Linked DNA regions of Homo sapiens: all the other regions are linked to region 2. Evidence: fine-mapped expression QTL. A gene starts in region 2. Each other region holds a variant in brackets. All regions are shown on one strand. Distances are between the middles of the regions.

Evidence for each region.
Region 1: its variant is fine-mapped to the expression of GGTA1 in left ventricle (GTEx, PIP 0.97).
Region 3: its variant is fine-mapped to the expression of GGTA1 in whole blood (TOPMed, PIP above 0.99).
Region 4: its variant is fine-mapped to the expression of GGTA1 in monocytes (TOPMed, PIP above 0.99).

The regions. Positions count from the first base shown.
Region 1 is chr9:121,458,574-121,466,676 of GRCh38, forward strand. GGTA1 (glycoprotein alpha-galactosyltransferase 1 (inactive)) reads right to left here. Exons shown (of 6, transcript NM_001382585.1): 3 at 4,720-4,755; 4 at 2,679-2,744; 5 at 1,531-1,646. LOC102723324 (a long non-coding RNA gene) reads left to right here. Exons shown (of 7, transcript NR_187160.1): 6 at 4,084-4,197; 7 at 4,418-4,798. Among named protein-coding and RNA genes, the nearest start is that of GGTA1, 37 kb to the right of the region's middle. The variant C/T (reference allele first, on the strand shown) is at 4,747.
Region 2 is chr9:121,495,802-121,503,904 of GRCh38, forward strand. GGTA1 (glycoprotein alpha-galactosyltransferase 1 (inactive)) reads right to left here and starts at 4,043. Exons shown (of 6, transcript NM_001382585.1): 1 at 3,849-4,043. RefSeq lists silencers at 2,349-2,643, 3,993-4,092.
Region 3 is chr9:121,366,556-121,374,658 of GRCh38, forward strand. STOM (stomatin) reads right to left here and starts at 3,695. Exons shown (of 7, transcript NM_004099.6): 1 at 3,572-3,695. The coding sequence starts at 3,632. It overlaps LOC102723324 (a long non-coding RNA gene), which reads left to right and starts at 3,338. Exons shown (of 7, transcript NR_187160.1): 1 at 3,338-3,411. RefSeq lists enhancers at 3,700-4,660, 4,120-4,209. The variant T/C (reference allele first, on the strand shown) is at 4,385.
Region 4 is chr9:121,474,515-121,482,617 of GRCh38, forward strand. The region is part of intron 1 of GGTA1 (glycoprotein alpha-galactosyltransferase 1 (inactive)); the gene reads right to left. Among named protein-coding and RNA genes, the nearest start is that of GGTA1, 21 kb to the right of the region's middle. The variant C/T (reference allele first, on the strand shown) is at 4,050.

The sequences.
Region 1 (8,103 bases), 37 kb before region 2:
CCATGATTGTGCCACTGCCCTCCAGCCTGGTGGCAGAATGAGACCCTGTCTCAAATAAATAAATAAATAAATAAATAAATAAATAAATAAAGGATAAGATAAGATAAATTAAAAATAAATATCTGCTCCCTACTCATTTGGAGATGAAGCCATGCAAGGGGAAGAGTGAAGAGGGTGAAAGCTGGTGACTATGGTCTGTCCCTCCTCTCTGCCCCCAGTCATTCAGCCCCAGCCCCACCTCCCAAGTCCTGCTCAGCAAAGAACAAGTACCACAGTAAAATTGCCCCATTCTCCTTAGAAGGGACTTTGGGGACCATCTCTGGCCCATCTAGCCTGTCCCTGGCGGAGTCTCATTGCCCCATCTAAGGGGCTTTATCAAAGCAACAATGCTTCCATCTTCTCACATTTCTATGAGTGGTTTAGCATTTCAGAGATGCCTACCCTGTTGTGCAGATCATCAAATGACATATGGGAAGCCAAAATTCCCATCCCTTCACACTGGCATGGATCCCTTATCCCCAAACAATAAGAGAAGTTGCCAGAACATATTCAGTCTTTCCAGAGCCCAAGCTCCTTCACAATGGGATAGATGCTATTTTCAGGCTGGGCATGGTGGCTCACACCTGTAATCCCAGCACTTTGGGAGGCCAAGGTGGGAGGATCACTTAAGCCCAGGAGTTCAAGAGCAACCTGGACAACATAGTAAGACCCTGTCTCTACAAAAGAATTAAAAATTAGCTGGCCGTGGTGGCGCACACCAAGCCTCCTTACTCAGGAGGCTAAGCCTGGGAGGTCAAGGCTGCAGTGAGCCACGATTGCACCACTGCGCTCCAGCCTGGGTGACAGAGCAAGATCCTGTCTCAAAATGAATAAAAATTAAAAATCAAATGAAAAAAAAGGATTCCATTCTCTCCTGATTACTCTGATGATACCTCATTGCACATCTCCAGCACATACCATCTGCTAAGCTCAGGAGCACCCTGTGACTCTGTCCAGATGTCCCATAAGCACCTGCATCCACATGCATTCCTAATGGAGGTCCCCACCTCCCCCAGCTCTGAGGCCTGTGTCTCCTCCTCCAGTCCCCTTTCTGGCCAATGGCACCATCACCCACCAGTCTCTCAGGTCTCAAAGTCACCCTGGACAGCTCCCATCTCCTCACTCCCAGAACCACATCCTTCCAGTTGATCCTGCCTCCTACCAATCTAGGCAAATAATAGTTTCACAGTAACGACCCCTGTGAGACCATGAACTTCTCAAATACAACCATGTTGATTGATTTCTCCTGTCTCCTCTCCCTAACACAATGCCTAGCACAGTGTTTTTGACCATAACTCACAGTGAGAAATATACTTTACATCACAATCAAATAGATGCACATATACATATGTCTACTGTTAAAGGTCTAATATGCTAAGGCTCTTTCTCCTAAATCAGGAATGTTCTCAATGGCACTGTTGCCTCCACTGCCACACCACCCCCTGCAGGGCCATGGATTTGCTGCACAGGGAGTGACGCCGCTTTTCTTACTTTGGATTAAACCAGTCCCATAGCCGAAGCTCTGTTGTGTCATTTTCCTTCCTTTGGTCTCCTCTCTTCCTTTTTCTTTGTCTATGTCTTCTTCCCCTTGTTGATAATTGTGGATCCTAAGTACAAAGGGAAAGTAAACCAGGTAAGGCAGGGAAGGTGATTGCGGTGGTCAGAGAACTGGTGAATATCTTGTGGAAATGTGTTCCAAGGCAGATTATGCATGCACTAAGTGAACTGACCAGAAAAAGGCTCTAGGCACTAAGCGTTTATTCATAAAGACATATTTTTGATGAAAAGATGCAGTACTCAACTCATTACCCTTCCAAGTCACCACAGTTAACAATTTAATGACCCAGCAACCCTCAGGTTATTTCAGGGGGGGTGAGGGAAACTTGATAAGACAATTCTTCTAAGAACATTTTAGTTTATGATTGTCTTTCCTGCAATCTAAACTTTAGCCCAGGCCAGGCATGGTGGATCACGCCTATAATCTCAGCAATTTGGGAGGCCAAGGTGGGCAGATCACCTGTCAGGAGTTAGAGACCAGCCTGGCCAACGTGGTGAAACCCTGTCTCTACTAAAAATACAAAAATTAGCCGAGTGTGGTGGCGGGCGCCTGTAATCCCAGCTACTTGGGAGGCTGAGGCAGGAGGATCACTTGAACCAAGGAGGTGGAGGTTGTAGTGAGCCGAGACCACGCCACTGCACTCCAGCCTGGGCAATAAGAGCAAAACTGCATCTCAAAAAAATAAAAATAAATAAATAAACTTCAGCCCAAGCCTCAGCCCCCAAGTTAACTGAAACAAAACAAAACAAAAGACTTATTTATCTGGATGTGGTAGTGCATGTCTGTAGTCTAGCTACTCGTGAGGCTGAGGCAGGAGGATCACTTGAGCCCAAGAGTTTGAAGCTGCAGTGAGCTATGTTTGCACCACTGCACTCCAGCCTGAGTGACAGTGAGACCCTGTCTCAAAAACAAAACCAACCCTCAAATGTCCTAGTCCCACTCACAAAATATTCTTCATATAATTTCAATAAGCAAGAAAGATGAGTGACTGAGAAGGTCATGAACATGAAACCATTGTGTGTGGACCCTCTGCAAGCACCAGGCGGGTGGGCAAACACCGACTGCTGTCTGATCGCCTTACCCATTGTTAAACCAGCTCAGAAACCACCAGCCCTTCTGAGCACTGCTGTCATCAACTTCTGGGTTTCTAAGAAATGAAAAAGTTTACAAATATTTTTAGAAAATGTGGTGTCCCCAAACTTAGGGTTTCCAAATTCTTTCTATAGCCGAGATTACTTTAAAAAAATAAAAAACCTTAAAATGCCAATTTATAAAACAGACAGAAATGAGACACTCTAGCTGAATGAGAGAGAACAGACCTGAGACTCCCTCAATCTCTCCTCCCTTGGGTAGCCCCCAGCCCTCAGCTCATCCTGGGGGCCCTAGAGGAAGAGAAGGGAAAAGGGGGCTGGAGTGGGGGTGGTATTAATGCATAAACCTGAGTTCTAGATCTGCCACTTACTAGCTGTGTGACTGTGATAGGACATTTTCCCTCTCTGAATTTTGACTTTCTCCTCCAAAAAGTATAGTTAATAGTACTAATAACAGACCTACCATGAAGGTAATTTTGAAGACTGAATGAAATAGCATACATATAAGAGCTTTATGAGTTGAAAATGACTGTAACAAGTTATACGCTTCATGAAAAACCGATGCATGTTTCCATGTTTCTTTAGCTAAAACCAGCAGAATTCAGATTGTTGTAAAAGTCTAGAGAAAAATTTGGGTTGCCCAAAGGTTAGCAGTAACAGCCTCAGGAAATCTGAGGGTCACTGAGCAAGAAGTTCAGGAAACTACTTAGAAGCCACTGTAGCCACCCATTTGAGAAAGTTTCCACACTCATTCATTGTGAAAGTCTCTTCAAGGTGGGGGGTCGGGCACGGTGGCTCACGCCTGTAATCCCAATACTTTGGGAGGCAAAGGCCAGCTGGTCACCTGAGGTCAGGCGTTCAAGACCAGCCTGGCCAACACAGTGAAACCCCATCTCTACCAAAAACACAAAAAATTAGCCGGGCGTGGTGGCAGGTGCCTATAATCCCAGCTACTCAAGAGGCTGAGGCGGGAGGATTGCTTGAACCCAGGAGAAGGAGGTTGCCGTGAGCCAAGATGGCACCACTGCACTCCAGCCTGGGCAACAGAGCAAGACTCCGTCTCAGAAAATTAAAAAAAAATAAAAAGAAAAGAAAGAAAAGAAAAGGTGGGTGCCTTCTGGAGGATGGGGAAAGAGGAAAGTCCGATGGACAAATACGGTGGTGAGCTAACTCATGAACAGGCATAATATTATGAAATCTGTTTTAAAGCCTATTAACTCTTGGAAGTGTTTGAGATGGCTTCCAATACGTAGGTACAATAAACAGAAAAACAACACAAGAATAAAAAACACAAGAGAGAACAGAAAGAGATACATTGATTTCGTCACCCAGGTATATATTTTCACATGACCTCAGTCATCCCAAAGAAAAGTTTCACCTTTACTTTCATTTCAGAGCTGAGATACTGGCTGGGTGGATTTCAGCAAATTTCCAAGGGCACATGACATGTGGGCACAAAAGCCGGGATTTCACACCAGGGGATAAAGTATATCAGAAATGAAGGCTGGGGTAAGTACAAGCAGTTAAGTGCAATACTTTGTTCTGAGCTTTCTGACAACCAACCCAACCATTGGAAATATAAAGGTTTACATGGCTCTCATTTTCTTTTCAAAAAATACAAAAAGAAAATTTTAATGATACACACTAGTTTCTCAAGAGGCTCAAATTTTTTTCCTGATTTTTATTCTTAGAGCAATTTCTTATATGGGTCTTTATATAACATTTAAAGGGCAGAATAATAGACAATATCTCCCCGGATACTTTTTATCAGCAAGACAGGAATGTTCCCCAAATGACACTGCTTAAGAGAACTTTGAGGAGAACTGAGGGCAAGATACAAGCCATGGTTCTATACAGATAAGTCTACGGAAGCTGCAGAAATAACATTCCAGATCCCCAGGAATCCACCCACCCACCCCTCCGACTTTGGCCGAACACCATGGCTGGCTGCCGTGTGAAGAATGGACTGTAGGGGGTGCCAGAGTGGCTGTGGGAAACATCCCCTAGAAATCTAGAATTCAAAGCACTTACTTTGAGTGATATATCCACAAGAAAGAG[C/T]CTTCTGTGCTAAAAGCAAAAAAGAAATAAAAACATATCATGTTACTTTTAATTCTGAGAAAGGCGATTTTGTAACCATTATCACTGAGCCCGGGGCTGAGCTAAGAGCCTGGGTTTTAGCTGCTTCCTGGTTTCTACCTTCCTTTGAGACATAACCAATGACATCAGGAGGATGGAAATTTCCACTTCAGGATCTCAAGGGGAAACAGTTTTCTGCAAAATCTCAAATTGTGTGTTTGTGTGTGTGTATTGTAGAGACGGGGTTTTGTCACGTTGCCCAGGCTGGTCTCAAACTCCTGAGTCAAGAGATCCACCCCCGTTGGCCTCCCAAAGTGCTGGGATTACAGGTGTGAGTCATCACTCCTGGCCTCAAATTCTGTTTTGTTTTTGTTTGTTTGTTTGCTCTTTTAAAAAGAAGACAGCTCTCCATTGCAGAGATGGGTCCTCTCCTGCCACCTACTCAGGTGCCTGGTGATGACGAAGGCCCTGAAAGGACGGAAATGCCGTGGCCCAGACATCCTTCCCCCAGGATTTATCTTCCTCCAGAAAAAAAAAGCATCAACTGCAGAGCCTAATGCCATGGCCAACTCAGAGCCTTCTATAGAACAGCCCCCAAAAGCATTTCTTTAACTAATGAAGGCAGTGAGACTCTTAAGCCCCTACAAGTGCTGCAGCCTAGCACGCATAACCCTACCTGGCACTCAGGCCATGGATTTATAGATTCAGGTTCACCAACTTTTCATATCTCCTCAACAACCCTTCTCCTTACCCTCCTCTCCAGAATCCTTCAACAGCACAATGGTCACAGCAATATCCACATTGCAGTGGCTTTTAAACATGTATTCATGCTTTAAGCCTCCACTCAAATGCCACCTTTTCAATGCCTTGCTTGATATGATCCTAGCACAGTGCCTGGTACATAGTGGATACTCAATAAATATTTGTGAATGGATGCAGAACAATGGATCCTCCTCCAAGCCAAACATAATTTTTGCCTCCTTGAGGTTTTTTTTTTTTTTTTTTTTGAGATGGAGTCTTGCTCTGTTGCCCAGGCTAAAGTGCAGTGGCACGATCTTGGCTCACAGCAACCTCTGCCTCCTGGGTTCAAGCAATTCTCCTGCCTAAGCCTCCTGAGTAGCTGGGGCTACAGGCACACACCACCATGCCTGGCTAATTTTTGTATTTTTAGTAGAGACGGGGTTTCACCACGTTGGTCAGGCTGATCTCGAACTCCTGACCTCAAGTGATGTGCCTGCATCAGCCTTCCAAAGTACTGAGACTCCATCTCAAAACAAAAACAAAAACAAAAACAAAACAAAACAAAACAAAAAGAATCGGAGGTAATGCATAGCAAGGGTCCTGGCACATGCCCTCAATAACTTGTAGTTCCCATCATGATCACCACTATCATGAATATTTCATCATAATTTTGAAGGCTTCCTCTAATTCTCTAAAATTCGAAGATTATTTTTTCATCCAGCCTGAAATCAAATGCTATCCTAGATGATATTCTTTCAATACGCTTTACTGACAATTCTTCTATTTACTAATTGGTTGACATGCTTGAGTTAGTTATTTTTAATCCATTTTAGCTTAGTGCTGCCTACCTGTGTAAGGTTTGTGTCCTCGGCTCACCTCAACCTATCATGTGGCCAATTCGTAAAGTGGCAAAAAAACAAAACAAACAAAAAAAAAAAAACAAAAAACAACTCCTCCCCTTGAAGTTTTTTGCAGATGTTCAAGTGGATTCTGCACATCAGAGGATGTTGTGGCCAGAGTCCAGGTGCCAGACGATTAGCCTGAAGAGCAGCCAGAACCTGCTCTGGCTACCATGCAGAGAGAGTGTGCCCAGAGAGGCTGGTATATACATGCACGTTTCAGCCTTTGGCTCAGTTATGCACATACAACTCTGGCTACAATTCCAAACACCAAAGTTATCTGATCAAGTGTTCAAACTCAGAGCTTGAAGGTTATCCAAGCAGACATTCCGACTCCAGGCAGGAACCCCAAAGGGTACTTGTTCTTCTGTTGGACTCTTCCAACTGCTAGAGCTCTTCTATTTACCAAAATCTTTCTTGTTCTGCCCTCTGGAGCAGATCATGATGATGATGACTGTTACGAAGTGAATGTTGTATCTCTTCAAAATTCGTATGTGGAGGCCCTGCCCTCAGTGCGATGATATTTGGAGGTGGGGCTTTTGGGACGTAATTAGGTTTAGATGAGGTCGTGGGAGTAGGACCCCCATGAAGGAATTAGTGTCCTTACAAGAAGAGGAAGAGGCAGTAGCTTACTTGCTCTCCATCACGTGTGGATACAGGGAGGAGGTGGCCATCTGCCAGCCAGGAAGAGCCCTCACTGGGGATCTTGGACTCCCCAGCCTCTAGAACTGAAAGAATTAAATTCCTGTTGCTTAAACCACCTTGTGGTACTTTGTTATAGTGGCCTGAACTAAAATGATGATGAGGAAGAGGAGGAGGAGGATGACAGCTAGCATTTATTGTTTATTAAGCCCTAGGCATTGCTTCCCAGTGCTTTATACACAATAACTTATTTAATTCTCCCAACAACCCTATGAGGCAGGTACTATTATAATCCCTCCCCCAACTTTTTTTTTGAGACAGTGCCTTACTCTGTCACCCAGGCTGGAGTGCAGTGGCAGGACCACAGCTCACTGCAGCCTCAACCTCTCAGGCTCAAGTGATCCTCCCACCTCAGCGTCGTAAGTAGCTGAGACTACAGGTGCGCACCACCATGCCTGGCTAACTTTTTAATTTTACTTTTGTAGAGACAGGGTCTTGCGATTTTGCCAGGGCTGGTCTTGAACTCCTGGGTTCAAGCAATCTGTCCTCCTTGGCCTCCCAAAGTGTTGGGATTACAGGTGTGAGCCACCATGCCCAGCCTATTATCCCCAATTTTTAAAGATAGGGAAACTAAACAAGAACAGAGTGGCTGAGCAACTTGCCCAAGGAGCAGCCTAGCTCTAGAGTCTGAGTGGGAAACGTCCTCAGCCCTCAGTTGCCTAAGAGAGTTCCAGGGTCCCCACACAAAACTCTGAGTCATCTCTTCTTTGAACTAAATCCCCTCAGTTTTCTCAATTCAAAAGACCTAGTTTCCAGACCCTTTTAACTTGGTCACACTCTAGTTTGTCATGTTTTTCTTAAAATGAGTTGTGCAGAATGAAACAAAGCAACATTCCAGAAATGGTTACATCTGTGCAGCACCACAGGGACTAATGGCTCCAGCATTCGGAGAGTTCTTCTGCTACTGATGCACCTAAAGGCACGGTTCCATTTTTAGTAACCAAGACAGTCCTCCTAGATCATCAAATCTTAGAATTTAAGAATCAAAAGAGGCCGG
Region 2 (8,103 bases):
ATTCATACAGTGACCCGTGATGGAAAGCCACCATAAGATAATTCTAGCTTGGACTTGTTGAGTTTGCAGTGCCTTTGAGACATTCAAAACAAAGATGCCCATTGGGCAGTTAAACATGTGAATTAGATGCCCAAAGTTTGAGATAAGATGAATGCTACAGAAGTAGCATTTAAAGCCATGAACATGGATGAATTTGCCTGGCCCACAGAGTACAAGTACCAGGTCTTTAAATCCCAGTTGACCCATAGAGACTAACCTGTTATGTGATTTTCCTTACTTCTCTGTTGATTCCCCATTGCTCACAACTCCTTATCATGGCATGAAAGTTTCATCACAATCTGCACTTATTGCATCTATATAATGTGTATCAGTTAGCTTTTGCTGCAGCCATGCTGCATAACAAACAACCCCCAAATCTTAGCTTTTGGCCACAAAAGTCTATTTATTTTTCACATAACATATTAGTGCCCAGAAATCCCTATTCCTGAGGTCATTATTCCAACCACCATTTGGTTCTTTCCTTCCCAAGCCCTGGCCCATAATGGTCTCCATATCACCATCTCCATATCACCATATCCCTATTCTGCCCTGACTCATGTTATTTTCTCCAAAAACTCTTAAAATTCAATCGTAAAAAATAGAAGGTAGGCCGGGCGTGGTGGCTCACACCTGCAATCCCATCATTTTGGGAGGCTGAGGTGGTCAGATCACAAGGTCAGGAGTTTGAGACCAGCCTGGCCAACATGGTGAAACCCCAACTCTACTAAAAATACAAAAGAAAATTAGCCAGTGTGGTGGCAGGTGCCTGTAATCCCAGCTACTCAGGAGGCTGAGGCAGGAGAATCGCTTGAACCCGGGAGGCAAAGGTTGCAGTGAGCCAAGATCATGCCACTGCACTCCAGCCTGAGTGACAGAGCAAGGCTCCATCTCAAAAAAAAAAAAAAAAAAAAAAAAAAAGAGAGAGAGAATCGCTTGAATGAACCTAGGGGGCAGAGATTGCAGTGATTCAAGATCCCACCATTCCAGCTTGGGAGACAGAATGAGACTCTGTCTCAAACAAACAAAAAAAAGAGTTGTCAAATCAAACACGTAAGATTTGTAGGTTTTACAACTGGGCATGGTGGCTCACACCTGTAATCCTACCACTTTGGGAGGCGGAGGTGGGTGGATCACCTGAGGTCAGGAGTTCGAGACCAGCCTGGCCAACAGGGTGAAACCCTGTCTCTACTAAAAATTAAAAAATTAGCTGGGTATGGTGGTGCACGCCTGTAATCCTAGCTACTTGGGAGGCTGAGGTGGGAGGATTGCTTTAATCTGGGAGGTGGAGGTTGCAGTGAGTCAAGATAGCATCACTGCACTCCAGCCTGGGCAACAGAGGGAGACTGTCTCAAAAAAAAGAAAGAAAATAAGTTTTACATATCCAACCTAAAATAAAAGGAAAGTACAGGGCAAAGAGTACATTCATTTCAGATAAAATTATATTTATGAGTTTATACCTCTATTAATGTCCAGTCCCCTACTGAAAGCTGCCCCCTCCTTCGGTTGTTCTCCCCTCACCTCTGCCCCGTCTCCATGACATTTGTCCATTAGCCATTTTTTAGCCATCATGAGAGGTGATGTAATGGAAAAAGCACCAACCTTAGAGCCAGAACTGCATTCAAATCCTAGCTGCCATTTAGTTGCTGAGTGCCCATATGTTTCTTGGTCTCTCTCAGCCTTCCTTTCCTCAACTAGAAAATGGGTTAGCCTGAGGGGCTGCTCAGCCCACAGCCCCTCAGGCTCCAGTCTTAGAAGGCTGGACGAAGGCAGGGACGGGCGCAGAATGGGGACAGAGACTGAGTCCGTTCTGACATAGAAGTAGCAACAAGAACAAAAGCAGGGACACAGGCAGGTACCTAGTCTACTCAGTTGGGCCAGGGAACCTCATTATTTTTTACCTCAACCTGTGAGACCAACTCACATAAATGGTCCCACTAAAGGTCTGGAAGTGCTCAGAGGATGAGATTCACAGGCTTCTTCTCCCAGAAGGGCCAGAAGGCAGCCCTGTGGCCCTGGAGTTGGAGTGTAGGAGAGCTGGTGGTAAGAGCTGGGGAAATGGCTGCTCAGAGCCACCATGGCCAGACAAAGGCAGCTCCTAGCCTATGATTTAGGGGACAGGTCTCCTGGTAAGGTGTGGCCACTAGAGAAGTTTGCCCAAATCACGTTGCACACTTCTGGACCTCAGCTACTCCACCAAAAACTGGATCAGGTTGGATCTGAGCAATCTGACATCAAAAACGTTCTCAGGAGTTTCCCAATACATAGAGGAGATAAAGGAAGAACAGAACTGGTTCTGTCTGAAATAAGATAGGGAAGGGGCCAGAGCCCTGTCCTCTAGGTTCCCCTCCCCTACCATGGTGGCCCTTGAGGCAGGATGCCGGGCCTTACAGGACAGAGTTGAAACTTCTGGACTGGGCAATCCCTAGGGACTCGTTCAGCTCTGCCTTATTCAGTCATTGAGCACCTGTTACATGTAAATGAGATAACTTAGATCCACATGCTGCCCCCATCTGGTAGAGGAGGCAAAATTCACCCAGATGTAACTCCGAAAGAGGTAGAAAGTGCCTGATGTAGTCAAAGAAGCACAGAAATGCAGCAGAATAACCCTGTCCTCCACACCCCCCACTCCCAGAGCCCTCCTTCGCCATGCACTTGCATTTCCTTACTCAGAGACTGGAAGGAAGGTCTCCAGTAGTATCCTTATTTCACAATCGGGGAAACTGAGGCTCTGTCTGGGAAGGTGGTTCCTTACTGGCAGCAAGCGGCAGGCCAGGGCTGCACCCTACATCTCCTGCTTCCTCAGACACGCCTGTTTCCAGGTAAAGGAAGGAGGCAGCCCGGCCTGCTCAGGAGCCCGAAGGAGTGCAAAGGAAGAGCAAAGCCTCAAAACACCTGCCTCGGGTCTCGGTTCCTTCCTGCCGGAGGAGCGGCTCTCACACCCTCCGCGCCTCCCAGTCCCTCCCGGCCGCCACAGCGGGAAGATCGAGGAATCTCAAATCCCTCTGCTTCTCTGGCTCTTTGCGCGCTGACATTTTTTTCTTCTTCTTTTTACTGTTTTTTTTTTTTTTACTTTCTTCAAGAGTTTGTGCAATCATTGTGTTTAGCCGTTTTCCTGCCATTTCCAAACGCGGGGTGGTGTCCTTTTCGAGTAGGAGCAAGGTTTGAAGAGTTGGAGGAAACTCCCGCCTCCCATCGCCCCAGTGCTGCAGGCACCCCGGATGCCAAAGTTAGTGTCGGAAACTTTCCCCATGCTGGGCGTCTGACTGAGTCCTCGGCTCTCCGAAGCTCTCTGACATCTCCCTCTCTATTCCCTTCCTCCTTGGGGTTCCTGCGACCCTCACTTTATCCCCCCACTCCCAGATTCCCCTTCCCAGAGGCGCGCCCTTCCTATCTTGTCCTGGGCAAGAGCCATTCCTCTGTCCTGCCCCACAGGCAAGGACAGACCCCTCACTCACTGCGACTTACTTGGTCGCATCCTGTGTCCCCTGCGTCTCCCCTCTCTTCCCCCACCCCAACCCCGCGGACCCGTGGGGGAACCTCAGCTTGCAGCTCTTCAGGCTCCAGTCTTGGAAGGCTGGACAGAGGGAGGGACGGCCACAGGATGGGGACAGAGGGACAGAAACTGGGTCCGATTTGGCACCGAGGTAGCGACAAGAACAAAAGCAGGGACACAGGCAGGGCAGACACCGGGCAGCGCCGGAGCAGCGGCCCGCCTCCACTCCCTCACCACCCTCTCCCAAGCGCGGAGCCCCCCGTCCGTGTCCTGCTCGTGGCCTCCGGGGACCTGGGCGGCTCCCCGCGGGACCCACCTGATCCGCAGAACCAGGGCGCCGAGGGCCGGCGCGCGGTGAGCTGGGCTGAGCAGGACCGCGCCCAGCTCCCGGCCCCGGCGAAGCCCTACGCGCTCTGATCAGCCACCGCGCCGCCTCCGCCCGAGCGGAGGCGCGTCCTCCCGCCCGTGGGCCGGCCGGCCGGGCTTCTGCTCTGGGCAGAGCGCAGCGGGTAGGGGCGCGAGGAGCCGGCGAGCGCTGACAGCGGGCTGCGCCAAGCCGGTCCCCGCCCCGGACACAGACAGCTGGAAGGCCGGCGAGCGAGTGCGTGAGTGAGAGTGTGTGTGTGCCGGGGAGGCGGATAAAATCCCCGGTGAGAGTGGCTGGGCCTCTTTTGCCTTCTCGGGCCTGCACGTGGTGGTGGTGGTGTAGGTGATAGAGCAGGAACCCCGGGCGTTGGAGGATGGGGTGGGGTCTGTGCTGTGCTGCTGGGAGGGGCTGCGCTGCGCTGGCGCACGGCCAAACTCTGGGAAACTCAGAGCCTTGGAGATCTGATCCACCGTTTGTTTCCCGAGGAAGGAAGAGCGCGAATGTAGACAGCGGCAGGCCGGGGCTGGAGTCGCTCTTGCGAGAGTCCTGAGCTCTGGAAGTGAGGGCTGGGCGTTGGGCACCTGGTTCAGGGTCTGCCCGCGTTTGCGCACTGACTTCATGATCTGTGAGCCCAGAGTGTCTCAAACGGGGCTCTAAGGCAGCCCCTAGGCTGTGGAATAACTCTTTAGTAGAATTATGTAGAAAGGAATCCAAACATTCGATTTCAGAGTGTGCGCTTCTGTGCCCAGTGTGGCAGCAATTCACTCAGAGAGTTGCTGTGGCCACAACTGGCTGCCCTCAGTTCTCTTGTCTTATACTGATAGCGACAAGGTCTTCTCACTCCCGCTCATATCAATCTACTTTACAGGTGGAAAAGTCAGAACTTCATTTTGCCATTTGCCGTTGAACGTCATTTTCATAGACTAAGAAATTCGCTTCTTAAATAATTCGGCCGGGCGCGGTGGCTCACGCCTGTAATCCCAGCACTTTGGGAGGCCGAGGTGGGCGGATTGCTTGAGCTCAGGATTTCCAGACCAGCTTGGGCAACGTGGCGAAACCCCGTCTCTACAGAATATAGAAAAATTCCCCAGGCCTGGTGGCGTGCACCTGTAATCCCAGCTACTCGGGAGGCTGGAGACTGAGAAAGAAAAGAAAAAATAAAAAATAAATACAAATAAAAATCAAACTGCCAGGCCAGGCGAGGTGGTTCTAGCTTGTAATCCCAGCAGTTTGGGAGGCCAAGATGGGTGGATTACCTGAGGTCGGGAGTTCGAGAGTAGCCTGGCCAACATGGTAAAACCCTGTCTCTACTAAAAATACAAAAAATTAGCTGGGCATGGTGGCACACGCCTATAATCCCAGCTACTTGGGAGCCTGAGGCAGGAGAATCACTTGAACCCAGGAGGTGGAGGTTGAAGTGAGCCGAGATTGCGCCACTGCACTGCAGCCTGGGTGACAGAGCGAAACTCAGTCTTAAATGAATAGACAAACAAACAAACAAAAAAATCAAACTGCCATGAAAACTACTTTACCCAAAATTTTAGTTCACAGCCTTCATTGGATTATCTATTGGGGCAAACAAAGTAAAACCAGCGAGCTTGTATTGCTATCTCATGGCTACAGTTCCAAGCTATTGGATCTTTGTTTGTGTCGGTATATACATGTCTAGATGTGTTTATTTGTAGGTACACTTACTGTTATATCTTGTGCCTACCAAATTGGCATATAAATAAAAGAGTGCTCATAAATTAACTAAATAAGTCTAAGCAATTTTCAAGTTCATATGACTTAAGTATAACTTTAATAAACAGGCTGGTTTTAAAATTATTGGTAAAATAGAAATGCTTTCAGAATTGTCAGCATACATTTTTGTCTGGACTTTATATTTGTCTCTGCTAAATACTTTGAGGTGTCAGAGTTTGGCATAGAAGGTTATAAAACTATAAACCCAGCCAAAACAAAATGATCTTGGTTTGCGTGCTTTTTTTTTTTTTTTGACAAATGAGAGTTAATTTAATACTATTAGCTAAATCTTCTGAGTTGTTGGCAAAAATAGCTATGTATTTAACTTTGATATCCTTCCTTATGTTTAGGTGAGCACCTGATGCTCACTGGCTATTAAAAACATGGTTAGGCCGGGCACAGTGGCTCACGCCTGTAATCCCAGCACTTTGGGAAGCCGAGGTGGGCGGATCACTTGAAGTCAGGAGTTCAAGACCAGCCTGACCTCCACCTACTGGGTTCAAGGGATTCTCCTGCCTCAGCCTCCTGAGTAGCTGGGACTACAGGCACATGCCACCATGCCCAGTTAATTCTTTTATTTTTAGTAGAGACAGGGTTTCACCGTGTTAGCCAGGATGGTCTCAATCTCCTGACCTCGTGATCTGCCTGCCTCAGCCTCCCAAAGTGCTGGGATTACAGGCATGAGCCACTGGAATATTCTTAATTCATGGCAATGTGTTTGTTTGCATACAGTCGAGCAGCATCATTTGGGCCGCTCAAGGAGAAAGAACCCAGAAACCTAACATGCCAACAATAGGGTAAGAATTTCTTTCTTTTTTTTTTTTTTTTGAGATGGAGTCTCGCCCTGTCACCCAGGCTGGAGTGCAATGGTGTGATCTCGGCTCACTGCAACCTCTGCCGCCTAGGTTCAAGTGATTCTCCTGCCTCAGCCTCCGGAGTAGCTGAGATTACAGGTACCTGCCACCACACCCGGCTACTTTTTGTAGTTTTTAGTAGAGGTGGGTTTCACCATCTTGGCCAGGCTGGTCTTGAACTCCTGACCTCGTGATCCACCCACCTCGGCCTCCCAAAGTGCTGGGATTACAAGTGTGAGCCACCGCGCTGGCCTAGGGTAAGAATTTCCTACCAGTTGGACTTCTGGCCCCTCTCTCTCTCTCTGCAAACTGGTTGAATGACTTATAAAAGATTATAATAATTCATGACAATGCAAATTTTTGTAAACCTTTTACATGTTTGGTAGCCTTCCCAGGATCACATTTCAGTTCTGAGGTTGTCTTTTTTTTTTTTTTTCCTTTGGGACAGAGTCTCGCTCTATGGCCCAGGCTGGAGTGCAGTGGCATGATCTTGGCTCACTGCAACCTCCGCCTTTCATTTTCATTACATCTCTGCTTTTGTTGCTTCATTTTTTCCTTGCTTTGTTTCTGCATTTTTGTCCAATTCTTTGCTCAGAATGCCAAGAACCTACACACCCTCCACCGGTAACACTTCCTTTTTTTTTGATATGGAGTTTCGCTCTTGTTGCCCAGGCTGGAGAGCACTGGCTCGATCTCAGCTCACTGTAACCTCCACTTCCCGGGTTCAAGTGATTCTCCTGCCCCAGCCTCCTGAGTAGCTGGGATTATAGTTGTATGCCACCATGCCTGGCTAATTTTTGCATTTTTAGTAGAGACGGGGTTTCGCCATGTTGGCCAGGCTGGTCTCAAACTCCTGACCTCAGGTGATCTGTCCACCTTGACCTCCCACAGTGCTGTGATTACAGGCTTGAGCCACCACGCCTGGCCTAACACTTCTGTTAAGCCCACCTGGAGCCTACTACTGGTAGGCCCTCCCCAGTGACTTGGATAACCACCTCTTGCATTTCTTGCATTTCCTCTTCCCATCCTCTCTCACCCTGTCCTCCCTCTGTCCTCCCCTTTCTTCCTCAGATTCTCCATGTCAGAAACACCAAGGTGAGGTGGCCTCTGGCAGGCAGGGTTTGGAATGCACTTCCAGAATGTTCTTGGCAGGGAAAATGCCCTCCTTGAGATCTTGGTGGGGAAGAGAAATGTCAGTAACAGTGAGCTGGGAGGCAGGGGGAGGATCGATTTCCCCAAAGTCTGATGAGCCTTTTTCACAGAAATACCAGATAAAGGAAGTGCAAAACTTCCACAGAACTAGAAAAACACACAGCCCAGGAACCCTGAGAGATGGCCAGTCCCAGCCCTCAATTTATAGATGAGGAAACGAGATCCAGATGGCAGTGACTTCCTCACAATCACAAGCTTGGCATTTGCAGAGCTAGGTTTTGTTCCCATAGCTCTCTCACTTGCTTCTCAGCCCCACGCAGGTGGGGAAACTCCTAGGTCTTGGGGGCCTGGGGGGAGGTGTTTTAAAGAAATTCCCAGGAGTGGTAAGGTTGGTCCGGAGAAGCAGAAGGGAACGTGAGAGTAGAGTCTTGGAGGAAGTGGAATGAACAGACAGC
Region 3 (8,103 bases), 130 kb before region 2:
ATGGCCATGCCCTAAAATCAACAGCTTAAGTTATAACAAACTTAATAAAATAAATGGTAAACAGAAAAACTGCTCCACCAACATAAGGCTAAGGCAAACACTTAACAATGTTATTTACTCCAGGGGGATTTTTATCTCCCTGCCTGCTTCCTTTTTCTTTGAACAAATGTTTTTGTATACCTACTATGTACTTGATACTGGGCTACTACAGTGAAGAAGGACACAATCTCTATTTTCAAAAGTGTGGTCTAAAGGCCAGGCTTGGTAGCTCATGCCTGTTGTCCCAGCACTCTGGGAGGGTAAAGTGGGATCGCTTGAGTCCAGGAGTTCGAGACCAGCCTGGGCAACATAGTGAGACCCTGAGTTAAAAAAAAAAAAAAAATTAGCTGGGTGTGGTGGTGCATACCTGTAGTCCCAGCTACTCGAGGGGCTGAGGTGGGAGGATCACTTGAGGCTACAGTGAGCTATGACTGCACCATTGCACTCCAGCCTGGGCAACAGAGCAAGACCCGGTCTCAAAAAGAAAAAGTGTAGTTTAATTATGGGAGGGGAGGGGACAGATGAGTCAAACTGATAAATATGTTATGTAATAAACATTATGATAGAGATATGCACAGGATACCAGGCAGACGCAGGGAAAGGGTATTCACTTTTTTTGTAGTTACAATAGTTTTCAGGAAATTGCTTTTCCATGCCTTCTTAAAAAAACTGATTTTGAATTCCATCTGTATCACTTTATCAACATCTTTTTTTTCCCTCAAAGATGACTAGGAATCAGTGACTGTCTTTTACTAGGTAAAATTTATACCATCAAATGGCACCAAAAATCTATTTAATCATGAATAAATATGCCAGTTTTGTAGACTTGGTCTTCCATAAGTTAATTTATGACCACTGATGGAATAACTCAGATTAATTATTGAAGAAGTTACAAAGTTCTCTCCAATCTGATTGGCTATAACAACTGAAATAAACAATCAGTCTCCCAAAGGGTTTTATTTGTTGACATGGCTCTTAATTACAGTGATACATTCTTTGCAATTACTTGCATTATTTCATTACAAAGTGAATGCATCGCCTTTAAGAAAAACTAGTCTTGCCCTAGGCCTGGTGCTATTTACCTACCTAGGACTAATTCTCAGTAAAGACAAAGAGGCAGAGTTTAGGCTTTTAAAATTCCACTGCTTCTTTCACAAGCAGCCTTCTGGAAGTCATCACTGAAGCTGTGTTCCTCCAGGCTTTTTTTGTTTATTGTCTCTCAACTTAAGTAAAGTACTGAAGTTAGACAAGGTTCTACATTTTGGTATCCATCTCTGGGATAGGGAAAATGATTCAGAAAATCAGATAGCCGGGGTTTGAAACAGGGCTGAAAATTTTAGAAACTGTGATTTTGCCATGTGAGCCGCAGTATCCTTATTGTGAAATGGTGAATAATGACTTTTTCCTTGTAGAGCTGTTACAGAATGCAATTAGATAATGTTTGTAAAGCACTTAAACTGTCTTTTGGCACAGGGAAAGCATTCAATAACCTCTATTTAATAAATTCCAGCAATACCTTTCCTAGTAGCGTCAAATTTGTTAGGTTTACATTAAAAAAACACAGACTATGCAAAATTTTATTTGTATGTCTAATTTTTGAGAGGAAGTGGTGGTTTTCATTAGATCTTGAAAGATTTCTGTCTAAACAGTAGTTAAGTGTAGAACCAAGGAAAAAAACTGGAAGTTAAAAACTCATCTATGACCACTTGTCTGTAAATAAACATTAAGTACAAAGATCATGTTGATTCTCAAAGAACTCCAAGCAGATTTGCCACTGCAGTTTCCCACCAGGAGGTCAGGGTATTGAGGAATGCATGCTAATACCCACCTTTTTATCTAGGAAAAGACAACTAACTATCGAAGAGGCAGTTACCACCCATTTTTTCCCTATTCAAGTTTTAGAATCAGTCAAATCTAGATTTAAATACAAACTAAGTGACTTTAAGTAATTTAACTTCTTTGACTATCAGTTTCATCAAGTATAATATGGGGATAAGAATACCTACCACATCATCTGTTGTGAAGATTCAATAAAATAATATATACATAAAATACGTGGCACTGGGGGGGTCGCGGTGGCTCATGCCTGTAATCCCAGCACTTTGGGAGGCCGAGGCGTGTGGATCACTTGAGGTCAGGAGTTTGAGACCAGCCTGACCAACATGGTGAAACCCTGTATCTACAAAAAATACAAAATCAGCTGGGCATGGTGGTGCACGCCTGTAATCCCAGCTACTTGGGAGGATGAGGCAGGAGAATCACTTGAACTCGGGAGGCGGAGGTTGCAGTGAGCGGAGATCACACTCCAGCCTGGGCAAGAAAAGCGAAACTCCGTCTCAAAAAAAAAAAAAAAAGTGATACGGAGCCTGACCTATTTAGTTTCAATTTTTGTTGTTGTGGTTGCCATTATTCTCATCAACTCCTCCCTGTTACACTCTCCATTTGGGAAGATAACCTGCAACGTTATTAGTAGACAAAAAGTGAGGAATAAAGATTTCTGTAATTCCTTTGATGCTCCTGGGAAGGAACTGAACACAGGGATCCCTGGACAAGGGAAATGGAACTTATAGCTAAGATGCTGTGGATAAAGCTGGCTTTACAAATAATCAGAATAGATGACTCCAATGTCATGTTCTTTGAGGGGTCCTGGAAAGGACCACCCAGCCCTCTAAATTGCTTTCACTGCCATCCTGCCTGAAATTCCATCTTTAGAAACACTGTAATTCCTCTGGATCACTAAGAGCTCCTGAGTGGGTACCAGGACTCCTGAGAGGTCCACCATCTCTCTTTATTGGAACCCCCTCCCCAGAGTACCAGTTCCTCCACAGGGGAACGAGACTGAGCCACTTACAGCTCCTGCCTTGAAGACTGGGAAGGGAGGGTGGGGGTGAGGGTGGGAGAACTCAGGGTTCCTGGCGAGGAACAAAAGCCGGGAAGGAGAGTTCTCCAAAACGCAGAGGAAAGCGGAGGGGGAAAAATGGGGCAGAAAGTGGAGCTAGAAAGAGAGGTAAGAAGAAAGCCAGAGAGACTTCTTCCTTCTGCAAATCGGTCTAAGTTTCGGGAGGTGGGATTGGGGGAGGAGGGGGTTCACCCTGGGGCCAGGCCAGGGCTGGGTGGAGGAGGCGGCCTTCGAGAGAGTGAGTCGGGAAAGAAGGGGAGTGGGCAAAGGGTGAGATGTGGGGTCCCGGTCCCCGCCTCGCTGGCTGCCAGTTCCCTCTGCGTTTCCTAGTCCGCGTGCGTGACACGAGATAGTGCAGCCCTGGCATGGGGCTTGGCATCTGGCGGCCGCGAGATAACCAGGGCCCGTGCGATGGGAAACGTGCCGTTGGCAGCCCGCCACCCCTCCATCGTGACCTCAGTCTGCCAAACAGGGTTCGTGATGCTCAGTTTACTAGGGAGGAGCCGCGGCTTTGAGATCTCGCCCAGCCCGAAGCAGCGGAGACTGGCCAGGAGCCCGGCTGTCAGACCTCGGAGCGCACGCTGCGGGCGGGGGCTCGGTCCACGGGGGAGGGTCAGGGGACGCGGGACTCACCCTTGAAGGAGTCGGGGAGCCGCTGGGCTTCGGAGTCCCGTGTGTGCCGCTTCTCGGCCATGCTGCCCGAGACGCAGTCGCACTCCCCCGTCCTCGTTGCCAAACCCGGAGCCGCCGGGAATGCCCTGAGGAGCCAGAGGCACAAGACCCAGATTGCCGCCCCGCCCCCAATCGAGGTCCCGCCCTCGTGAGAGTTGGCCAATCAACGCCCAGGATCGAGGAGGACCCACCTCCCAATCCCCGCCCTCCTGTCCCTCCACGGCGCGACTGCTTCGCAGTCACTTCCCGCTAGTTCTGTGGGCTGAGGGGCGTGGCCTGAGGGGCGTGGCCTGAGGGGCGAGAGCCCCCAAGGCTGTGGGTATGAGGCCGGGGCCCTGCACCGGAAGGGAGGGCGGAAGCCACGGGACGTGGAGCAGATGGTGAGGATAGTGGGGAGGTAGCAGCAGAGGATGACCCGAGGCAAAAGTGCAAGTGAAGAAAAGTCGCCTTGCCGGGCAGAGGTACGGGACCAAGGCGCCTCCTCTGGGCTGAGGAGTTAGAGGGAAGAAAATGGCGCCCTGTCATGAGGGCGCGAGGTCCGAGTTGAGGGGAGAAGACTGAGGGACACAGAAGTGGCCGAAGTGAGGGCGCTGAGGTCAGCCTGAGCTGAGAGGGCCGGCAGATCACGCCGCAGCCGAAGTGAACGAACTCGAGTGAGGTGTGTTAAGAAAATCAAAATGTATAAATTTGGAAAAGGAGAGGAGGCCGGGCGCGGTGGCTCACGCCTGTAATCCCAGCACGTTGGAAGGCCGAGGCGGGTAGATCATCTGAGGT[T/C]AGAAGTTCGAGACCAGCTTGGCCAACATGGTGAAACCCCGTCTCTGCTAAAAATACAAAAATTAGCCGGGCGTGTGGCGCGCGCCTGTAATCCCAGCTACTTGGGAGGCTGAGGCAGGAGAATCGCTTGAACTTGGGAGGCAGAGGTTGCAGTGAGCCGAGATGGCCTGGGTGACAGAGCGAGACTCCGTCTCAAAAAAACAAAACAAAAAACAAAAAAACAGGAGAGGAGACTTTATTTCTTGTAAGGGGTTACAGCCTGCAAGGTGGCCATTCCGCAGGCTGGAGAATGGCCAGGACCAGAGACAGGCATTTCGTTGGAGGAGGGGTTGGAGTAGCGGCTTTATGCTGAACAGCTTGGGTAGACATGCATATTCAGCAGGTGACAGGAGGAGCTATGAATATTCATGAGGGTGGTCCTGACGCATGCCCATTGAGCAAACATGCATGTAACATACAACCCATGTTCATTTTGGAGTGAAGAGTTACCAATTAAATGTTAAATGCCTGGCCTGCATGGTGACGTCCCCATCTCTACAAAAAGTAAAAAAAAAATAGCCAGGTGGGGTGGTGTGTGCTTGCGGTCCCAACTAGTCAGGAGGCTGGGGCAGGAGGATCACTTGAGCCCAAGAGTTGGAGGCTGCAGTGATGTATGATCAGATCACTGCACTCCAGCCTGATGGACTCTAAAAAATAATAACAATACATGTATTACAGTTAGACCCCATGCGTCAAAAGGTCTTTTCAGGACAGGAAGGTGTGCAAGTATGCAGTCTGTGTAAACTAGCCAGAGCCAGTCCATGGTCGGTAGTTTTCCTATGAGGAGAAAGTTACTGAAATCAGCCTCTTGTCCAATTAAAGCTGTAATGATGGCTGGTGGAATAGGGGTTCCATTAGGCCACATCTGGTGGAGCTGCAAATTGTTTTAATATTGCTTATCTCGAGGCCAGTGCTTGTTAAGCTGCTAGAGAAAGAGAACAACCTTGTGGCAGTTAGAACACAGTTTATTCTCTAAGTGAAGGGATGTGTGCCTTAACCTTTGCCTGGCATGACCTTAGGTATAATTTGTTTATAATTTGGTATCTTATTGTCACAAACAGTCTGTTCTGTCAGTCTTATGATCTGTGTTTTAACGTTAATGCTGGTCAGCTGTTGTGTCTAAACTCCAATACGATGAAGTTATAATGAGGCGAGTCTGACCTTCTGTCCTGTCATTGGCTGGGAACTCAGTTTTAAAGTTTTCTGGAGTCCCCTTGGCCACAAGGGAGTCCATTCAGTCGGTGGGGTCATTTATTCAAACAAAATCTTCTTGGAGCATCTTCCATGTGGCAGGGAGTGTGCTAAGGGCCTCGTGGAGTTTACCTTATACTCTAGTTGGGAGATGGGCCACAAACAAGTAATTGAATCATTACACATGGTGAAGGAAGCTGTGAAAGGAGTGGAATATTCGGAGAACAGCAAAGGTTAGGACAGGGGAACACCTCTGTAAGGAAGGGGCTTTGAGATGTCGCCTGAGAAATGAGAAGGAGCCAGCCTGGGGAAGGGGAATAAGCGGTGCAGGAGGTGGGAAAGGGTATCCCAGGTAGAGGGAAAAGCATGTGCAAGGGCATTCCCAACCTCAGGCCTTCTCTTGGGGTGTGGCTGAAGACCTCATATTTGGAAAGTAGGCTGTGTTTGCATTAGACTTGTTCTATTGCACAATGTTCAAAGTATGTTAATGTACACAAGGTGCACTTATAAAAACATTCGATTTTGAAATAAGTACAGATTCACAGGAATTTGCAACAACAGTACAGAGAGGTCACATGTCCCCTTTACCCAGTTTCCCCCAATAGTTACGTCTTACTTAACTAGAGTATCAAAACCAGGAAATTGACAGTGGCACAAAATGTATTTATAGTTCTGTGCCATTTTAACATGTGTAGATTGATATAACCACAGTAATTGATACAGAACTATTCCATTACCACAAAGATCTCCCTCAGGAGGAGCACTTCTTTCTTAATGTGCTCAATATTTGGCTGTGTACTACCCAACACCTTGTGGTGCTTAGGTCATATGAAATGGTAGACTTTCTCTCTGATTTTACAGCTCTGGAGCTTTGTGACTATCAGGACGGAAACGGGAGCAGACACAACAGGTGTTAAGAGAGGCATTAAGATGATCTTTGCTTGCAGGAACAGGCTCCAGTGTGTGATCAAAACCTGACTCAGAGCTTGCAGTTGACTTTTAGTCAAATACTGGCCAAGAACTGTTTGTATTCCTGGGATGGAGTGCAGCTTGTGCAGTCACTTTGTTAGCCTTCTGGAGAAGATAAGGAGGGGAGTACAGTAATTTAATGATCCCTTCTCTCTAAATCATCCTTGAGAAAGTCCATAGCTTCATTTTTCCATTCTGTAACGAATAAGCCCTGGAGACATAAACTTCCCGTTTATCCTGTCATTCCCAGGAAAGAGGAGCAAATACACAAGAAACTAATTAAACCCTTCGGTAGAGGAGGCCTTGATTACAAATTGCATATTGTGAAAAAGGATTTAGGTTTCATTTTTGTTGGAAAGGAAAATGGTATTTCAAAATGAATTTAATATGTGTACCCCTATCAGTTACCTAAGCCCAAGTCTCAAGACAATCTTAACAGTGTAGTGTCCCTTCTGGAGAATTAGAAGTGTCTCCCTTTGGGGTAAAGACTTTGGTAAACACTTCTTGGCTCTGGTTTCAGATTGCATCAGTTCTAAAACTAATTCCTGGCCCTAAACTAAGAACAAGCTTTGACTTGATTTTTAAACTGCTTTTAGAATAGAGTTTCCAATTTTTTATTTAAATATGCTTACTCTCACTTGCCCATGAAATTGGTGTATTCTGGCTTTCTCGTGCATATTCTGTTATAAATGTATTGATTAAATGTACTTTAAAAATCAATTTCTCACTCTTAAGATTAGAAAAAAACAAATATTAGTACATCCCTTTCTCCTTTTGGAGGATTTTTAATCTTAAATTTTCTCCCAGTAATGATTAGAAGTTAGAATGATTTTTTTTAAAGAACCTTATGGCCAGGCGCAGTGGCTCATGCCTGTATCCCAGAACTTTGGGAGGCTGAGGTAGGCAGATCACTTGAGGTCAGGAGTTTGAGACCAGCCTGGGCAACATGGTAAAACCCCGCCTCTACTGAAAATACAAAAAATTAGCCGGGCATGGTGGCGCATGCTTGTAATCCCAGCTACTTGGGAGGCTGAGGCAGGAGAATTGCTTGAACCCGGGAGGCGGAGGTTGCAGTGAGCGGAGATCATGCCACTGCACTCCAGCTTAGGCAACAGAGTGAGATTCCATCTCAAAAAATAAAATAAAATAAATAAATAAATAACATTATGCTTTTTAAATGGAGACATATAAAATTGTGAGTACTTTGAAGAGAGAATTTCTTATCACCTCTAACAAAACTGCTATTACAATTTTGGTGAATTTTTCCTCTAGTTGTTATTTGAAGGATACTTATATATAGTTTGAAAATCAGAGTAGATGTTCCATATTTCCTTTATTTTTTATTTTTATTTTTTATTTTTTAGATGGAATGTTGCTCTGTCACCCAGGCTGGAGTGCAATGGCATGATCTCGACTCACTGCAACCTCTGCCTCCTGGGTTCAAGCAATTCTTCGGCCTCAGCCTCCCGAGTAGCTGGGACTACAGGCACCTGCCACCACGCCTGGCTAATTTTTTGTAT
Region 4 (8,103 bases), 21 kb before region 2:
GACAGACTTTTCCATATGGCCTATAAGTGAATTCTTCCCTACCACCCACCTCCAATCCTTCTCACACAGAACAACACACACACCCTCTGAGAATCTCACAGTTCCACCCCAACAGGGCGAAGTCAAGGTAATTCGTTCCAAACAGAATTCCACTCTGAAAGGAATTCTAGCAGATCCTATCTTCTCCATCTCGTGCCAGGGGAAAAGGTGAACCTCTCAGCTGAATGCCATGCACTCAGATGCCATGGAAAAGCCATTATCTCAGAGAGCAGGAATCCGGCAGGGTGAAAGTGGTGGCAGGAGAAACCAAGCCTTCTCCGCAGGCTAAAGAATTCTCCTCCCAGCCTGAGATTCCTACATCAGGCCCCTAGAGCCCACCCGTCCTCCGCTTGAGCCTTAATCACTTTCAGGCTATTGTGATGGGTCCAGACTGGCACAGGCCCTGGCTCCCAGTAGGAGCATCCCAAGTGTCAGAGCCGTTTGAACCACAGCAACTCCATCTTGAATGGGAGCTGGGTAAAATAAGGCTGAGACCCACTGGGCTGCATTCCCAGATGGTTAAGGCATTCTAAGTCACAGGATGAAACCGGAAACCAGCACAAGATACATGTCATAAAGACCTTGCTGGTAAAACAGTTTGCGGTAAAGAAGCCGGCTGAAACCCACCAAACCAAGATGGCGATGAGAGTGACCTCTGGTCCTCCTCACTGCTACACTCCCACCAGCACCATGACAGTTTACAAATACCATGGCAATGTCAGGAAGTTACCCTATATGGTCTAAAAAGGGGAGCCATGAATAATCCACCCCTTGTTTAGCATGTCATCAAGAAATAACCATAAAAATGGGCAACCAGCAGTCCTCAGGGCTGCTCTGCCTATGGAGCAGCCATTCTTTTATTCCTCTACTCTCCTAATAAACTTGCTTTCACTTTACAGATTCACCCTCAATTCTTTCTTGAGTGAAATCCAAGAACCCTCTCTTGGGGTCTGGATCCAGACCCCCTTCCTGTAACACAAGTGTTTGGGGTGAACAAATGAGTAAGGAGAGTTCTGAGGCACTCCAGTTCTGCTCTGCCATGGATTCATTAACAAACATGGACTAGGCTACTGTGCTCCAGATGGTTTTTGGAACTGGAGATGCTTTACTGAACAAGATTATCATAGAGCTTCTGTTCCAATGGGAGTCAAGAGACTCAACAGGATATATAATGTCAGGTAGTGACAGTGAACAAAGAGAAGGAAAACAGGTAAGGGAATGGGGAAGGGTGCAGTAATTAACTGGGTATTACTGACCTTGGACAAGACTCTAGTCTTAAGTCCTCCAGATCCTTGATTATAAAGGAGAGTGTTCAGCTCCAGCATTCCAGGTAAAAATTAGGCTAAGAGCAAAGACTCTTAAATCAGCAGAGTCCTAGATGTACACCTTAGGCCACTTACTTTAACACTCTGAGCCTCTATTTACATATACAAAATGGAGATTCTAACACCCTCCTCAAAGGGTTCTTGAAAGCATACTGTGCCCATGGTCTGTTAATGCCCCCCACACAGTACCTATAATAATGATGATGCTTTTTAATGGGAGAAATTCAGAAATGCATGGCTCAGAGCTTGGTGTGAAAGCAGGGCTGTGAGTTCATCTGAGAGGGGAATCTTGATGGGCAGCATCTCTCAGAACAGTCAGGAGCGAGTCCACACGCCAACTGCATGTTGTGATAAAGTCAGCTCCATGCCCTGCTCTATCCCAGGAACACGGCTCTGACCAGACCAGCTGCACCTCCATTTGCACCCCACCCCACCTCCTTGCTCCACCCCTGCCTCACCCTGTCCCCAGCCTTGTCATAGTCCTGCAGGTCAGCCCCAGCACCAACACAGTGCCAGCTTTCTAAACTGGCGTCACGAGTTTCTCTGGCCTCAGACTCCTTGGCCCAGAAACAAGTCCTTTGGAGCTAAGATTCCCCAGTAATCCCCAGTTCTTCTCTGATGAACCCAGGATGTGCATGAGAAATCAGCCTCAGGGATGTAAACCTCATTTTTTGAGGGCAGTTCTTTTAGCCACATAGAGCTCACCCTGCTGCAGTGACCTACACGGGCCCCTTGGTGTGATGATCAAATGATAGGATTCATCAACTATCACTTCTCAGCCTTTTGGCTCAGATCATGCATAGGAACCACCAACCAATATGCGCTGAATGCAGAGGCTGACTTACCAGGAGCTAATGACGCTTAGGTGTCAGGGTCCTCATGTGCACAAGCCCCTTTGCAAGACTGGGCCTGATTTCCCATTAGGGTGAGCATGAGAAAGCCCCAAATGCTTCCCAGAGGTAGAGTGTTGCCTTGCCTGGGAGAGTCACTCTCTAGCCTCAGTGCCTGTCCAGGGGCTGCAGGCTGAGCTGGGGTGCTGACCCATTACCTGCACACCCACCTAGGTCCCAGAAACAACCGGTCCCAGGTGGACCTTGTTGAGCACCTGGGCCCCTCCTCCTTTGGCCTCAAGAAGAAGGAGATGAACTACACACTACTCTCTCTGCTCCCTGCTCAGGGGTCACTATGATCCAGGTCTCACAGCCACCTCGTGCTCCACCCAGGTTCGTCTGCCTCACTGTGCCTAGCAAGGATCCAGGGCTGAGTTTTCTCATGATCTGGCTGGAGCCACCTGAGAAACTGTCAAATGACTTAGAGAAGTGGCATCGCCAATAACAAATTGGGAAGCTAAAATAAATTGCTCTAAACTCTCAGTAATAAAAAGCACCCATTGATTAACCATGCCACAGGCAAAACTGATTTATCTGTCTTTTCTCTTTTATTGGAAATGATTCTAGAAAACTGTTGTCAGATAATGTGGCAGTCAAAGAGTATGTAGCCCAAACATGACAGGTGTATCAGACAGTTAAGTAATACTAATCATTTTTGTATTAGTTTTACATCATTTTCTTATGTCGTTGTTTTCTGGATTTTGTTATATTTGGAATGTTTGTCAGTCTTTGTTATTTGTTGTGATATCACTTCTCATATTCCAGATACTTACTTTCATACCTAACATTGCATTTGCAACCTTGCTTTTTTTTTTTTTTTTTTTTGAGACGGAGTCTTGCTCTGTCACCCAGGCTGGAGTGCAGTGGCACAATCCCAGCTCACTGCAAGCTCCGCCTCCCAGGTTCATGCCATTCTCCTGCCTCAGCCACCCGAGTAGCTGGGACTACAGGCACCCGCCACCACGCCCAGCTAATTTTTTTTTTAATTTTTAGTAGAGACGGGGTTTCACCATGTTGGCCATGATGGTCTCGATTTCCTGACCTCGTGATCTGCTCGCCTCAGCCTCCCAAAGTGCTGGGATTTACAGGCATGAACCACCACGGCCAGCCCATTCTTCTTCTTAAAGAGGGCTCCCCAAATGGAATCAGCTTCAAACCCTGCAACACCTGTATTTTCCCCAGTCAAGCCAGGCCAGGCCAGACCCTGGGCTAAACCCCTTTTCAGGAGTCTCTTAGTTAAGCCCCATGACAACCCAGTGAAGTTACTCTATTATTATCCCCATTTCACAGATATGAAAACAGAGGCTCAGAAAGGTGAAGTAACTTGCCTAGTGTCACATAGCATAAGGTGGTGGAGTTGGGGTTCAAATCCAGGGAGCCAGGCTCTAGTGCCCTCTCTTTTAACCACTCTGTTGCTCTAGAAAACATGAAGTCTTCTGCATGGGTTAATTGCTGTGGGGCCAGCTCTTCCTTGGACCAGCTGGTGAGCATCAGCTCAACTCTCCTAGCATTTCCAGGCACCTTCTGTGTGCGTGTTGTGGGGTGTCCTCACTCACAGCATCTTGTTTATTCCTCACAATGGTCAGTGCGGTGGCCTTAGTGTGGCTTTTTTAGCTGAGGAAACTGAGCTTTAGCAAAGGGGCATAGCTTGCCAGAGATCACTGGGCATGCCCAGAAGTCTTGGTGCCAGATTTAAAATGCCTGCCTCCCAGGCCCAGCCCTTGGCATAGGGATGGTGCTGGGTGTAAGGAGGAAGAGTGCCTTATTATCCTAAAACCTCAGTGAGCTGGTGGGT[C/T]TTACAAGGAAATGCTTCCACGATACAATTCACGGGGAAGCAGGGGAAGTGCATGGAAGGTTGTCTCCAGTTTTGTTTTTCATTATAAGGGTCAGAGTAAACAGACACAAGAAAATAAGAGACAGGTCTCAGACTGAATACATGGCCCACTGTCGCTCCAGCCATCTCAAATGGAACGACCTGTTCTCTGAAGTATATCTTACAGTGCTTTCTCTCGAATCCCCTTTGGGAAATCTAAAGGCTGAATCCAGCCAGCTTTTCCATGCTGCCTGGTCTGGAAATCACTGCAAGGGTTTTTCCCAGAGAACCAAAGTAAGATAAATGAAAGATGCTACACAATTCTGAGAGGGCTCTGCCTCCATCCATAACTTCACCCTGAGCCCCAAGACTTGCCCCCTGCTCCTGCATTAACAACTTAAATCCTTCAGGAAAAACTCCAGGCTGCAGCTTGGCTGCAGCCCTGTGAGGTCCTACCAGGGGAGCAAAATAAAGCTGAACTTACAGTGAAGTCCCTGAGCCGGCATCCTTCTTCCAGGTCCACTGCTGGAGAGACAAGGACTTGGTCCTCTTCCAAAACTACTGAGGGGGCCACCGAGAGTTTAGGGCGATCCACCCGTGACCCCAGCATGGCAGAAGCAAATCATTTCACCATCTCACATACCTCCTGCCGCTTTCACCCCAGAGTAAAAGGCAAAACAACAAAGTTCTTTTGAGCTCCCTTCTGCAGAAGGAGGCAGGACTCAGAGAAAGGGAAGGTGCTGGTTTCAACTCCTGTCGAAAGAATAAACAGCTGTTTCAGGAGATGGGGAGTAGACAGAGCCCTCAGCAGCCAGGGGCTTTGTTCCTTGCAGGCCTTTGGGAAACGAGCTGTTTATCAGGCCTGTTGACTCAGAGCTGTGTGCCAAGGCAGAAATGTTCCTCTCTGGATCCATGAGCGGCCCAGCCTCCTTGCCAAGCAAAACCATGGTCCAAACTGGGCCTAGTATGGGAGGAGGAAAGGCCACCACCCACCCTTGAGAGGGACACCAAGGGGGCCCACATCACACACTACTGGATAAAAATGGAAACCATTCTGGACCCAAACAACTTCAAGTGACTGCTCCTAGGACCAGCCACCAGCCAATGGAGACGTTAAAACACACACACAAACACACACACACCACAGAGGAGTGGACAAAGGGCTATCTTGAGAGTCCTCAAGACTGGTGGAAATTCTACCTAAATGTTCCTCAAAGTTAAGTCCTTCCTCTACATCTTTTAGGCTTCAGAAGTCGCTGTTTGGTTTGAACACTACATTTTTATAGAATGTTACGGGATCTCCCACAGCACAAAGCACACTACAAGAACTTTAAAAGGTCACCAAGGCTCAACTCCGCTCTCTGGCTGAATAATGCTTAACCCTTCCCATACCCACCTCCTGCTCCCAAAATAGAATCTTGCAGCTGGAAGGGACCTAGGGGCAGTGGATTTTCTTTCTTTCTTTTTTTCTTTTCTTTTCTTTTTTTTTTTTGAGATGGAGTCTCACTCTGTCGCCCAGGGCGGAGTACAGTGGCGTGATCTCGGCTCACTGCAAGCTCCGCCTCCCGGGTTCAAGTGATTCTCCTGCCTCAGCCTCCCGAGTAGCTGGGACTACAGGCACATGCCACCACGCCCAGCTGATTTTTTTGTATTTTTAGTAGAGATAGGGTTTCACCACGTTGGCCAGGATGGTCTCGATCTCTTGACCTCGTGATCCGCCCGCCTCAGCCTCCCAAAGTGCTGGGATTACAGGTGTGAGCCACCATGCCCGGTGGGCAGTAGATTTTCCAATGTCGAAACAGCTAAAACTTTTTCAAAAAGCAAACAAAATCATTCTCAGAATCCCCACGACCTGAAACAGAGCACACGGAGTCCTTTGGCTAAAGCAGGGAAATGATGCTCAAAGCCCCTTCCTCATCCTCCCACGTGGCTGAGACATCTCCAGGGAGTACAGTCTGGAAACCCCAGACTAAAGACAGGGGACCAAAGCCAGACAGGAAGGAATCAAGGACTGGCCCCCCGGTCGCTCAGTAGTGCCTAATCCAGCCTCTTCCTCCCGTTCCCCAGAAGGAAATTTCACAGCTTCCGCCTCTTAAGGGGATGAGTTATTTGGCCACAACCTTTAGGGTCCAGAAGTCTTCCTAATACCTTGCTTAAATCCTTCCTGTGGCTAACTATTTAAGCCAAACAGATGCCCACCTGCCTATCCTATTGTTCTGCTCCCAGTTCCACACCCAAACGAAAGTGTGTGGATGTTCACCAAGACACAGGCATTAGAATATTCATAGTTGGCCGGGTGCAGTGGCTCAGGCCTGTAATCCCAGCACTTTGGGAGGCCGAGGCGGGTGGACCATGAGGTCAGGAGATCGAGATCATCCTGGCTAACACGGTGAAATCCCATCTCTACTAAAAATACAGAAAATTAGCCAGGTGTGGTGGCAGGCACCTGTAGTCCCAGCAACTCGGGAGGCTGAGGCAGGAGAATCACTTGAACCCAGGAGGCGGAGCTTGCAGTGAGCCGAGATCGCGCCACTGCACTCCAGCCTGGGCGACAGAGCAAGACACCATCTCAAAAAAAAAAAAAAAAAAAAAAAATTCATAGCACACCCCAAACTAGATGCTCTCCCAAGGCGTATCATCAGAACAGGTAAATTATCACCTAGTCCCACAATGGGATTCTACCTAGAGCAATGAGAATGAGCGAGCTACAGCTACTCACGTCAAGGAAAATCTCACACACACAGCACTGAGTGAAAGAAACCCAGCATAAAAGGTACACACTGGATGATTCCATTTATTTAAAGTTCAAAAATAGGCCAAACTGGCAGGGGGCGGTGGCTCATGCCTGTAATCCCAGCACTTTGGGAGGCTGAGGCAGGTGGATCACCTGAAGTCAGCAGTTTGAGACCAGCCTAACATGGTGAAACGCCGTCTCTACTAAAAATACAAAAATTAGCTGGGTGTGGTGGCATGTGCTTGTAATCCCAGCTACTCAGGAGGCTGAGACAGGAGAATTGCTTTAACCTAGAGGTGGAGGTTGCAGTGAGCCAAGATTGCGCCACTGCTCTCCAGCCTGGAGATAGAGTGAGACTCTGTCTCAAAAAAAAAAAAAAAAAAAAAAAGAATAAAAAGTGGCCAGGCACGGTGGCTCACACTTGTAATCCCAGCACTTTGGGAGGCTGAGGCGGGTGGATCACCTGAGGTCAGGAGTTCGAGACCAGCCTGACCAACATGGAGAAACCCCGTCTCTACTAAAAATACAAAATTAGCTGGGCGTGGTGGTGCATGCCTGTAATCCCAGCTACTCAGGAGGCTGAGGCAGGAGAGTTCCTTGAACCTGGGAGGCAGAGGTTGCAGTGAGCCGAGATCATGCCATTGCACTCCAGCCTGGGCAACAAAAGCGGAACTCTGTCTCAAAAAAAAAAAAAAGAATAAAAAGTAACAGAAATCAGAAATCTTCCTGCTGGGAGCTGAGCTCTCCTGGGCACTGTCTTTCCCCGCTAGGGCCACAGGACCTGGATGGGCCCTGCCTCCCCAATCCCAGGCACCACAAACACCTCAGGAGGGGCTCAGGGACAATCTGTTGTGCTAAAACAATCTAGGAGGCCAGGCACAGTGGCTCACACCTGTAATCCCAGCACTTTGGGAGGCTGAGGCAGAAGGATCCCTTGAGCCCAGGAGATGGAGACCAGTCTAGGCAATACAGTGACAGCCCATCTCCACAAAAAATGTAAAAATGAGCTGGGCATAGTGGCATGTGCCTGTAGTCCAGCTACTCAGAAGACTGAGGTGAGAGGATCACTTGAGACCAGGAGGCGGAGGTTGCAGGGAATCAATATTGCACCATTGCACTCCGGCCTGGGAGACAGAATGAGACCCTGTCTCAAAAAAATAATTAAAAAATCGGCTGGGCACAGTGGCTCATGTCTGTAATCCCAGCACTTTGAGAGGCTGAGGCGGGTGGATCTCCTGAGGTTGGGAGTTCAAGACCAGCCTGGCCAACATGGTGAAACTTTGTCTCTACTAAAAATATAAA